3 linked regions of the Homo sapiens genome follow. The protein of the gene in region 2 interacts with the protein of the main gene of each other region in a pairwise test. Each region holds a gene or a part of one and is shown on either strand. Other genes may lie near its edges.

Region 1 (3,651 bases), on a different chromosome or scaffold from region 2:
GGCTCACACCTGTCATCCCAGCACTTTGGGAGGCCAAGGCAGGTGGATCACCTGAGGTCAGGATTTCGAGACCAGCCTGGCCAACATGGCAAAACCCCGTCTCTACTAAAAATACAAAAAGTAGCCAGGTGTGGTGGTGCACGCCTGTAATCCCAGCTACTCGAAGGCTGAGGCACGAGAATTGCTTGAACCCAGGAAGTGGAGGTTGCAGTGAGCCAAGATCGCACGGCTGCACTCCAGCCTGCGCAACAGAACAAGATGCCATCTCAAAAAAAAAAAGAAAGAAAAGAAAAGAAAAACAAACAGCCTGGGCAAAATGGCGAAACCCCGTCTCCACAAAAAAATACAAAACTTAGTCAGGCATGGTGGCGCATGCCTATAGGATCCCAGCTACTTGGGAGGCTAAGGCAGAAGGATCATTTGAGCCCAGGATGCAGAGGTTACGGTGAGCTGAGATCACATCACTGCACTCCAGACTGGGCGACAAAGTGAGACCCTGCCTCAAAAAAGAAAAAACTAAGAAAGAGACTGCCTTGGGCTCAAGGCTGGAGAGGGAGGTGACAAAGACTGAAGGAGACAACCGATCCTGTCCAGAAGAGAAGAACAAACCTGCAATCCTCTGACCCCAGAAATTCCACTTATGGGAGATAATCAGCCACGTGGACCAAGACTTAACATGCCGAGATGCTCCCTACAGTTTCTCTTATAGGAGGGAAAAGAGGGCAACAATAATCTAAATGTCTACGAATACAGGAGTCAATAAATTATGGCATATCCGTATAATAGCAATTATATAATTATAAAAATAACGTAGAGGAATACACTATAACATTAAAAGGGGAAAAGCAAGCTATCAACTGTGTATTCAATGTATATATACTATTGCTCTAATTTAGAAAACACAGACATTATCAGAGGAAAGAAACACACCAGCAACTTTACTGCAGTTAGCTCTGGATGGTGAGGTCACAAGTGATTTATATATTTATTTTGGCATTTATTCTTTTCAGTATTTTCCTTTTTTTTCAGATGGAGTCTCGCTCTGTGGCCCAGGCTAGAGTGCAGTGTCGTGATCTCGGCTCACTGCAAACTCCGCCTCCCGGGTTCATGCCATTCTCCTGCCTCAGCCTCCTGAGTATCTGGGACTACAGGCGCCCGCCACCACGCCCGGCTAATTTTTTGTATTTTTAGTAGACACGGGGTTTCATCGTGTTAGCCAGGATGGTCTCGATCTCCTGACCTCGTGATCCGCCCACCTCAGCCTCCCAAAATGCTGGGATTATAGGTGTGAGCCACCGTGCCCAGACTTTTTTTTTTTTTTTTTTTTTGAGACAGAATTTCACTCTGTCTCCCAGGCTGGAATGCAGTGGCACAATCTCGGCTCACTGCAACCTCCACCTCCCAGGTTTAAGTGATTCTCCAGCCTCACCCCTCCTGAGTAGCTGGGACTACAGGCACTCGCCACGGCATCCAGCTAATTTTTGTATTTTTAGCAGAGACGGGGTTTCACCATGTTGGCCAGGCTGGTCTTGAATTCCTGACCTCAGGTGATCCGCCCACCTCGGCCTGCCAAAGTGCTTGGATTACAGGCGTGAGCCACCGTGCCCGACCTACTTTTTATTCTTTTGAGACAGGGTCTCACTCTGTCGCCCAGGCTAGAGTGCAGTGGCATGATCACGGCTCACTGCAACCTCAACCTCCCAAGCTCAAGTGATCCTCCTGCTTCAGCCTCCCAAGTAGTTAGAACTACAGGCATGCGCCACTATACCCTACTAATTTTTTCTTTTAAGAGGCATTTTTTTATTTTCATCACATTGCCCAGGCTGGTCTTAACCTGGCCTCAAGCAATCCACCTGCCTTGGCCTCCCCAAGTACTGGGATTACAGGCATGAGCCACCTTGCCCTACCACAAGAAAAATGTATTTAAAGGGCCTTGTACAATGCCTGGCAAATGATAGGTGCTCAAGGAGTATCTATTGCCTGACAAGTCAATTAAAAATGCAATAAATACTGCTGCTGCAGCCCCACAGAGAAAAAGACTGATGGTTATCTTGGAAAGGAGGAAGACGGTCCAGACGGAAGCCACACAACTGGCTGCAGAGGTAAGAACGGAAGGAAGTCCTGTACAAGATGTGAAAGACCGCCAGCAACTTGAGATAGGCTTTGTTCTGCCAGCTACTCCTGCTGCACGCAATGCTTCACAAATCAGTGCTGCTGCCAGCACCTCGGAGGTGCACTTCAGCTCGGACGAAGGATGCTTCTCAGGTCACACAGAAAACCAACAAGTACAGCTGAGAACAAAGCTCAACCACAACTTCTGGCTCAAGACACTAAGACAAACCTACCTCCCAGCACAAAAGAGATTTCCCACGTGCCACCCAGAGGTATAAACAGTAATATCGCCAATGGCAAGGCCCAGGTCTGCCAGCTCCCAGGTGAGGAGGTCCAGTCTGAATGGCACCTTTTAAACCTAAAGCTAATGACAAACAATTCTATTTCACCAGAAACAAAGCTCACCATATCCCATGTCGCTCCCATCTCCAACACCACAGCCAGTGCCTGTATTTCTTTGTCCCAATGACAGACCCAAGTTTCCTGAGGCTGTACAAGTCCCAGAAATAATCTTAAAAAGAGATCAAGTTATGATCTGAAAAGAAGACAGTCTAGTTAGCCCTGCCTCCTTACATGAAATTTATTTAAAACCAAAATTACAAGATTTGGAGCACAAAGCCCATTGTCTGCTGGAAATGTTGTTTTTTGGGGAGAAATCCATTGTTTTAAAATCTAGTATAGATAGGCTCTATTTAGTACCTGTCCGCCCATGACAAGATATGTACATTTCACGGTAGGGAAGCCTCATTATTGAATTCAGAAATACATGAATTGACCCACCTGGCCTATTCTGGTTTGAAATAGAAACCAACACAGAAATGATCAATCTTAAGGGGTAGGATAATGAGACATATAACTAGCATACAGCCACAGCCATTAGCAACATGAGTCAGTACTTTGTGCAAGGCAAAAAAAAAAAAAAAAAAAAACCCTCAAAAGTACAATAAAATAATCCTTCAGGATAAAAAAAGAGAACTGAAATTCAAAAGAGGTTAGGAGTGTTGAACAGGAAAAAAAAAATTAATAACAAAAATCCCTCAGCTAAGCACAAGGCAAAGGGACCCATGCTGGAACCAGTTCTGACCTGCCATTCCTGAAATTCCACTCTCCCGAGGTTTCCTGGCTCTTCCTTCCCCAGGCTTTCTTTTTACCTATTTGGGCCCAGTGGAGGCTGGAGACGGCCACTGTACGAGATGGGACGCCCACACAGTGGGCTTAGGGCCTAAGGCAAGGGCATGCAATCAGCATTAGGGGGCCACAGATAACCAAAATTCACAGGTATGCAGAAGCTCATGGGAGAGGCAGCGACTATCTCCTGGCCTAACTAACCAGTTAACAGTATAGAGCCAGACTGGGCCCGAGTGAAGTCAGACAAAAAGGAAGGGCCAAGAGGCAGGAAGCGAGGAAAAATCAAAGGATGACAGGACCCTGCTAAAATATCTCAGTTCCACAGCTAGGAGGTCTGGAGGGGGTGCCACATTTTACCAAAAAACCAACAAGATGGTTGCGGGAATGCCAAAATGAACCAAAACAAATTCC
Region 2 (4,222 bases):
TATATTCTCTCTCAAGTTCCTGGCTCATAGCATGTACCAGCAAACTCATTAAAACTAAAACGGTCTGTTTGGGAGTGAAGGATGGGAGACATTGAGAGCAACAGCAGAAAGGGTTGGGGGAGTCTTGGGAAATGCAAGGGTGCTTAGGTTGGGACCCGTGGCAATGAATGGAAGGGCAAGGGAAACTGTCTAACCAGAACTTAAAAATGCCTCTTGGTGATTTACATGAAAAGTGGCCTCTCAAGTTTTTCTATTATTCAGTGCTTCTAAGATACTGTTGCACTGTAAACCACAAAATTAATCTTATGATTCTACAATTTTACTTTCTAAATGATCACTTATTTGATGGTTTTTGAAGTACAGAAAGTATTTGGTCATTTAAATTATTTCCTTCCATGGACTCTGTATCACTGAGACAAGGAATCTTTGCCTTTATTGTAGATATTTCAATGAAAATGTCAACACGTTGCAAATTGGCATACTTTGGGTTTGCCAATATGTGATAAAGAACTTTTTCAATGGAAACTTTCCCTCTTTTCAGGGCCGAAAAGACGCTCTGCAACTATACTTAAGTATCCTAGGCAACTTTATTCATTCAAAAACATCAGAGCGGAGTCAAAAGCACAAATCCATGAATTGGGCGGCGAAGTCTGACTCCAGAGATTACGGCTGAACTGGGTTTGGAAAGACTGAACCCGCGCCGGTGCTCCTCCTGTTTGCTTGGACTTAAGTTTGAGTACCACAACTCTAACCTGCCACTTCAGCTGCACGGGCAGGCTTGTGGGGACCCAGCAACTCCGTCCAGAGAGCGGCTGAGTCAGCCAGCCGTCCCCACGGCTTTGGGCAGCCGCCGAAGGCTCCTGCTAGGCCCGGCTGGCTCACCGGGAAGTTCCCTGCCTCCGTCCCGTCAGCCTCCAGGAGGGCGCCGCCGGCCGCCGTGACTTCAGCAAGGCACTACTATCTCCGTCAGCCGCCGCCTCGGCCATCTTCCTGCCCGGAGTGCAACAAAATCCGGCTCTGGCCAGCCTTCCAGCTGACGCCACTCTGCCAGGGCCCTGCAGCCTCGGAGCGGGATAGAAGGAAGCCGCAGAAAAGACGCTGAAAGTTGGCGCTCGCTGACGCCCCGACGCGCTCCCTCCATGACGCATGCGCCCACCGGCCGTGAGCGCGGGTCCGGTCTCCGGTGACGTGGCGGTGAGGAGGCGGAGCCAAGATCAGCGGCGGGAGGGTGGGGGAGGAAGAGCGAGGTGAGCGCGGACGTCAGAGTGGAGAGCGGAAGGTCAGGGAGGCTCGGAGCGGAAGTGAGACTAGGGAGTCTGTCCGCCATTGTGGACCCGAGAAGCAGAGAGCGAGAGGGGGAAGAGGAGCGTGCAAGCGGAAAAGACGGGCCTCTTCCTCCGACTCCCGAGCGCGAGGCCCTCATTTTGGGTTCTCAGCGAACGGCGGCAGCGGCGGCGGCTGGAACAATCACTCGGCCAAGGGCGACAGCCAACTGCTGTGAGTGCACGGGGAGAGGCCCAGGCAGCGGCGGCGGCGGCGGCTCTCGGGTTGCGGTGAAGAATGTCAGCCACTAGCGTGGATCAGGTGAGGGAGCAGAGGCCCCAGGCTTGGCGAAGGCCCGAGCCCCGGAGCTCCACCCTCGCGCGGGGCTTCGGCTCCTCCCCGTCGCCGCCGCTGCCGGCCCCATAACGGTGCCCCGGGCGCAAGTTGCTGCGGTGTAGCTACCCGGGCCGGGGCGTGCGCCCTGGCCCCGTAGCTTGCGGGCGGGCGGGCGCGGTGCCGCGGCGGGTGGGGGCAAGGACCGGTCTTAGGGGCCTTAGGACAGATCCTGAGGGCGGCAGACATGGGGCGGAGACCGGGCGAGCTCTGGGAGACGGATTCCGAGTGGCGGGTGGGAGGTTTAAAGGCTGGGGGTGGTTGGGAAATTGGTGGCTGTGGAGGATATGGTGGGTTTTTACTCCTACGCGGATAGTCTAAAATAACTTGTCTTTGATAATGCCTTTGATTAACACACTTTTTCTTTTCTTCCTTTTTCTCCTCTTTACCGCATCTTTCGTCTTGCAACACAGAGACCTAAAGGGCAAGGAAATAAAGGTGAGTTTGGATTTTTTTTTTTCTTATTGCTCAATGTTGCCTTAATGTTACTTTTAAACTCTGTGAGGGTATTTTGTTTGTTTTTGCTCCCTCTTGGGAAAAAATGTAGGATTAGGGAAAATATTCATCATGGCTAAGGTAGCCAAGTTCTATCCAGAACTTCGGTAGTTCGTTGCTTTGAAGCCACTTTATAGAAACCAAAGTAGTACGAGAAACAGTTTCCTTGTCAGTTAAGCAGGTATTGGTGTGAACCTGGTGGTATTTCTTTGGTTTTCCAGTTTTTCTGTGTTATGTAACTTATGCCACAAAAAATTTCTACATGTGTATATAGACAAGTATATTCTTAAAGTGGACATTTTGTTTGACATGTCTGGATTACACTGGAAAATGGAAGTCTACATAGTATTCCATCACATTAATGAAAATTGTACTGTTAATCACTGATTCTATTGAAGTCAGTTGTAATGAGGCAACAACATGAGAGAGGTTAGAACTGAGTAGGCATGCCATCTTGCTCTATTGTTCTGATTGCAAGGTGTGACTCTATCTGGTATTTTATAAAGGGCTGAGAAGAAAATAGTTTGTGACATTTTTTCCAGGATTTTATAATTTTCTCTTTAGTAAAAGTACCATTGAAAGTAAAGTGTTTTTTTAAAAAGTGTGTTTTGTATTAATATGGAACAGTGCAGTCAGCTGACTGAAACATTATGACATTAGTCATGTGACATTTAGTTAAGTATAGAACAATAACTGCTTTCTTGGGATAGTGCCAATTAAATAACATCAGAGCAAATTATATATAACATTTTGTAGTGCTTGAAATTACACTAAAATTATGCTTTCTGTTGATTTCAGTAACACAGTGTTAGAAATTAAGATCTATAATAGCCTTTTAGATATAGATTGTCTTTGGTGCCCTTTAAATTCTTGTTAGGGTATTTATTTGCTATTGCAAATTTGGTGAATTTAATAGGTTTTGGATATGTAGATTAGTTTCCTCTGAATTATGGAATTTGTACATACCAGTTACATGGCACCATATTAGGTAACATTTTGTTTGTTTTCATTAAAGATGTTTTCTTGCAGTATGTAAATATTTAGACATTTTAATTTTTAAAATTTCATTTCTAGAATTTTTTTTGTTGTAAGCATAAACCTGAAATAAAAATTGGATATTGATTTATTTTAAATGAGTTTTTAAAAATTTGTGAATTTTAAAAAGAATGATCCATTAATTTCTTCTTTTGCTAGTCTACCCATTAGGAACTATGTAGACTTGGAGATTGTGAAATTGTGGTCATTATTGCCTAGCATAAATTATTTTATCCTAGATCTGTGGGGAGGTGGCACTTTGCAAAGCTATTTGAAATGCTAAGTGTTTTATGTTACCCGCTTTAAGGTAAGTACACAAGTTCTATGAGGTACTTGTTTGTTAAAACAAAATAGAGCCTCTACAGCACTGTAAGTCAGTAAAATAAGTTTGATTTATGAGTGGTCATTTCACTTAGGTAGGCACTGGTGGCATCTTTGATATTAGATATGAGTTGAGTTATCTATAAACTGCATAATACATCCACTGTTTGCAAATAAGTATTTTTTGGTTATTTCAAAAATTTTTATCCATCAGTATCGCTTCTGTTAGTTGTATTCAGACACATACACAAAGTGTTTATTTTGATAGTTCTTTATTCTCAAGAAATTTTCTTTCTTTCCCCCTTGTTGTTCAGTTTAATAATTTCATCTAAGGTTAGAATAATGGATTGGGATTCCTTGGAGTCCTGAGTTCTAATACTGCCTTTGGCTACTGACTTGCCAAGTGAGCTTGAAAACATTTTACCTGTCTGTCAGAATCTCCCCTCTATAAAATAAAAATAACTCTAGTCATAATTCCCATAATTCCTATAGTATGTTGTTAGGATTCTTGTAATTACAGTAGTTCACTGCTCTAGTAGCAATTATATTTGCTGGATTTCTTTTCACTTTCCTCACTTAATCTATTTTTAAGGTGCAGGAAGACTCCTTTGCATGGAGCCTTGGCAGGAGGGGAAAAATGCTACTGGCCTGAAAGTATTGCTAATTATTTAAGTTTCTTAAAAATGGCAGATGCTACAAGTGCACAAATAACAAA
Region 3 (3,461 bases), on a different chromosome or scaffold from region 2:
ATTTCTGTTTACAGTGTATTACCTTCCTTCCCTCCTCTTCTCCCCCCACACCCAACAAAATACAGTTTGGAATTCACTGAAACAGTACCAGCAAGTCATGAGATTTTTTAGTAAAGATGAGAAAGATGGTTGAAGAAAATTAGTGCATAATTTCTCAGTGAATAAAGTTGTAGCTCTCATATACTAAATAGACAAGTTTACATGCTGTTATTTAGAAAATGACTAAAATATTAAAAACCGTGTTGTGTTAATCTGTTTTAAGTCATACCATGTTCAGAGTTCTATGTAAGGTGGGTTTTATTTTTCTTTTAAGGGATAGTTTGTAATAGTAAGAACTGTCCCATATGTTAGTAAATTACATATGTACAAATTGAAACTGTAAATTGTGAACACTGGAAAGCACCATTGTGACATAGAGTAAACATCTTAGTAATATATTAAAGTGAATGTAAATGGTGGTTAAAATTACATTACTGTGAAATTCATCTTCCAACTCTAAGTTAAGCTTTGGAGATACATGTTAGTGGTTAACTGTTAAGAGCTTTGAAAACACTGCACATATCTGTACAAGCCAGAATTACTATTTCTTTGACTTATTATTAGCTTGGCAGTTGCTTTTGATTTGATTGTTTTATGACATGGTATACTACTATATTTACTCAGTTTGAAACTATTCATTTCTACACACTATTTTTAAAAATTGCCTACTAGGTGAAACATAACAATAAAACTACCTGTGCTGAAATTTGGGGGAAGTTTAGGTCCTTTAAAAAAACATATTAATCATTGACTACATCTATGATAAAAGTGCTTATTTTGGTTTACTAAGATAATGCAGTTGGTGGAAATGATAAACGTTTTAAGTGTTAACATCCTTTGAATGCGTTGGATTTCAGAGAATAAACATTTTGTAAAAATCACTTGGTAAGGATTATAAACTTAATTACTGCACTTAAAATGAAACATTACTTTTTTTAAACAATGTGTCACAAATGTAGGTCTGTATTACTTGTATGCTTGTGTGACTTACTGTTAGTCCAGCTCTAAAAATTTAAAGGTTGTAATTGAAATACAAGAAAAGAGCCTTCTTTTAGAAGAAAGCAAGTATATTTTTGCTTTTACTTCAAATGTTATTTAAAGTAGAAATTTAATTTGTAGATATAACCTTTAAAAATTTTCTCATTAAGACAATGTTTTTAATTTAATTTGCCTCATTACATCTAATAGTTCCCATTTGATGGCATGTATAGGGAAGAGTGAGAGAGTGTGTGTGTGTGTATGTGTGTGTAATATTTATATATATTCACAGTATGTATTTAGCATTTATTTTATTACAGCAGATTTAAAGTTTGTATCTAAATAATGCCTATGAGTTGTGTGAAGCTCTTGGCTTTTTTCCAACGTTACTTTGTAACTAATGAGGGTGGATGTTCATTGTAGTTTATTTATTTGGTTCTTTAGATGGAGGAATTTAAAAAATCAAATTTTTCTCTTCACCTTTATGACTTGACATTTCCTTGATCTGTTGGAGGCTAAAAGTAGGTATAAATGATATTGAATGTTGGGTATAGTGATACTCTGCCATAGTTCTTACTGCATGAAGAGAACAAGAGTCACACAAGTTCACCACTTTGCACTTCATAGAGAAGGTACATAGAGACATTGCAAAACCTGTCTCCATTTGCTATCCTGATAATTAAGGTTTTCATAATACCTAGGGCCTGTCTCTGAGTAATTTTAATTTTGCCAAATACACTGACATTTAAAATAGTGATCCATCTAAATTTTTTTCAGCTGGGTTTTGAGGAATATAAGAGCTTTCAATGATAAAGGTTTGTTGTAGTTGTCTTATGTGCTGAATTTGCAGATGATCAGATGCTGTGCAGAATTCTGATTTATTTTTGTTTCCTAAAATTAAGATAGCTTGAATATTATTTCACATTCCTTTTTCTTTTTTAAATAAACAGGTTTGCTTTGGAAAGGCTTAATGATGGAATGTTAGCATCTTCACTAGGGTAAAGAAGAACAAAAAGAATGTTGCTGGAACGTAAAATAGTATTTAAAAGTTAATGAACACTTCTCTAGTTTTCTTAGTTATGGCCTTAATAATTAGTCTCTTGGCTTAAATGTCCACTGGTTTTACTTTGACACAGTTGAACAACACTGGGGTTAAGTCTCTGGTATTTAGGCTGGCAATATATATATTAACCATATTTTAAAAGTACCAATTTTGTTTTTACAGAAAAGATAAAACTCAAAAGAGAACAGTGTATTCCTTCTGAGGGGCTTTTATAAATTATTAACTATAATATATGATGGATTTTTTCCTAATTTTTTATATTTCCTTACAATTTTGGTGGCCATTAATTTAACTTTAGGCTTTTGGGCATATGCTAGTCTGAGCTTCCGAAAAGATACATATATGTTTCCCTTTTCATTAGCTGAATGAGGATATTTTAAGAAGTTGAAAGAGAATTTATTTTCAAGTTGTGAGTAAATCCTCCTTTGAAATTCACCTGATTATTAGATAACTTAAAGTTTATTTTTAAAAGCTGACAACTTTTTATGAATCTTCGAGTTGACAGTTCCTAAAAGCGTAACTCAGATATTAATGGGCTGTGTATTAAATGGTTTTATTTTCAGTTTTGCAGCACAGAACACTGTTGAAATATCCATATCAACTTGATTTTTTTAACCTAATTCAGGTGTCCTTTGCATCTCTTAAATGTTGGGGGTGGGGGTCAGAGCCAGTTATCCGGCTTCTGTTTTGTCGATTGCTTAGATTTGTTCCTGTTGTCAAAACTGTTACCCCCAAAATTGGTGTGACACATGCTCATGCATAAAATGTTAAAATGAGTACATCCTTGTATTTGTATTTGTTTTCAACATCGCCAAGGTGCTATGGGAAATTAACAAAATTAGAAAAAAAATAAAATTATTAAAAAGCAGGACTGGTTTCCTTTTCTCTAGGTGGTGTATGTCTAATGACTACTTCTGTCTACCTTTCAGTATTATATGTTGCCCTCGCTAATTCTATTATTATTATTGTCTAAGTTGTTTTTTGGATGATGAGGGCAGTGGGAAGTAATGGTGTTTCACTTAAAACAAGGGCAGAGAGACAAGATACAGCTTTATGATCCTGGGGTATTCTTTTAGTTATTTTAGTATCAGAAGCAGTTATTAAAGGGTGAAAAATGGCTGGGCGCGGTAGCTCACGCCTGTAATCCCAACACTTTGGGAGGCCAAGGCGGGCGGATCACCTGGGGCCAGGAGTTCAAGCCCACCCTGGCCAACATGGTGAAACCCCATCTCTACTAAAAATACAAAAATTAGCCAGGCATGGTGGTGGGCACCTGTAATCCCAGCTACTTGGGAAGCTGAGGCAGGAGAATCGCTTGAACCTGGAAGGTGGACATGGCAGTGAGCCAGGATCGCGCCATTGCACTCTGTCCTGGGTGACT

What was found.
Region 1: the proteins of YTHDF3 (region 2) and PRRC2B interact in a two-hybrid assay, tested with the Homo sapiens proteins (one large-scale study listed by BioGRID).
Region 3: the proteins of YTHDF3 (region 2) and LARP4 interact in a two-hybrid assay, tested with the Homo sapiens proteins (one large-scale study listed by BioGRID).

The regions. Positions count from the first base shown.
Region 1 is NC_000009.12:131,396,954-131,400,604, reverse strand, and holds part of PRRC2B (protein PRRC2B), read right to left. Parts: intron 1-3,651.
Region 2 is NC_000008.11:63,167,318-63,171,539, forward strand, and holds the start of YTHDF3 (YTH domain-containing family protein 3), read left to right. Parts: upstream 1-1,303; 5' UTR 1,304-1,560; coding exon 1,561-1,584; intron 1,585-1,687; exon of another isoform or gene 1,688-1,794; intron 1,795-2,069; coding exon 2,070-2,094; intron 2,095-4,222. UniProt on the Homo sapiens protein: Specifically recognizes and binds N6-methyladenosine (m6A)-containing RNAs, and regulates their stability. M6A is a modification present at internal sites of mRNAs and some non-coding RNAs and plays a role in mRNA stability and processing.
Region 3 is NC_000012.12:50,477,057-50,480,517, forward strand, and holds the end of LARP4 (la-related protein 4), read left to right. Parts: 3' UTR 1-2,948; downstream 2,949-3,461. UniProt on the Homo sapiens protein: RNA binding protein that binds to the poly-A tract of mRNA molecules. Associates with the 40S ribosomal subunit and with polysomes. Plays a role in the regulation of mRNA translation.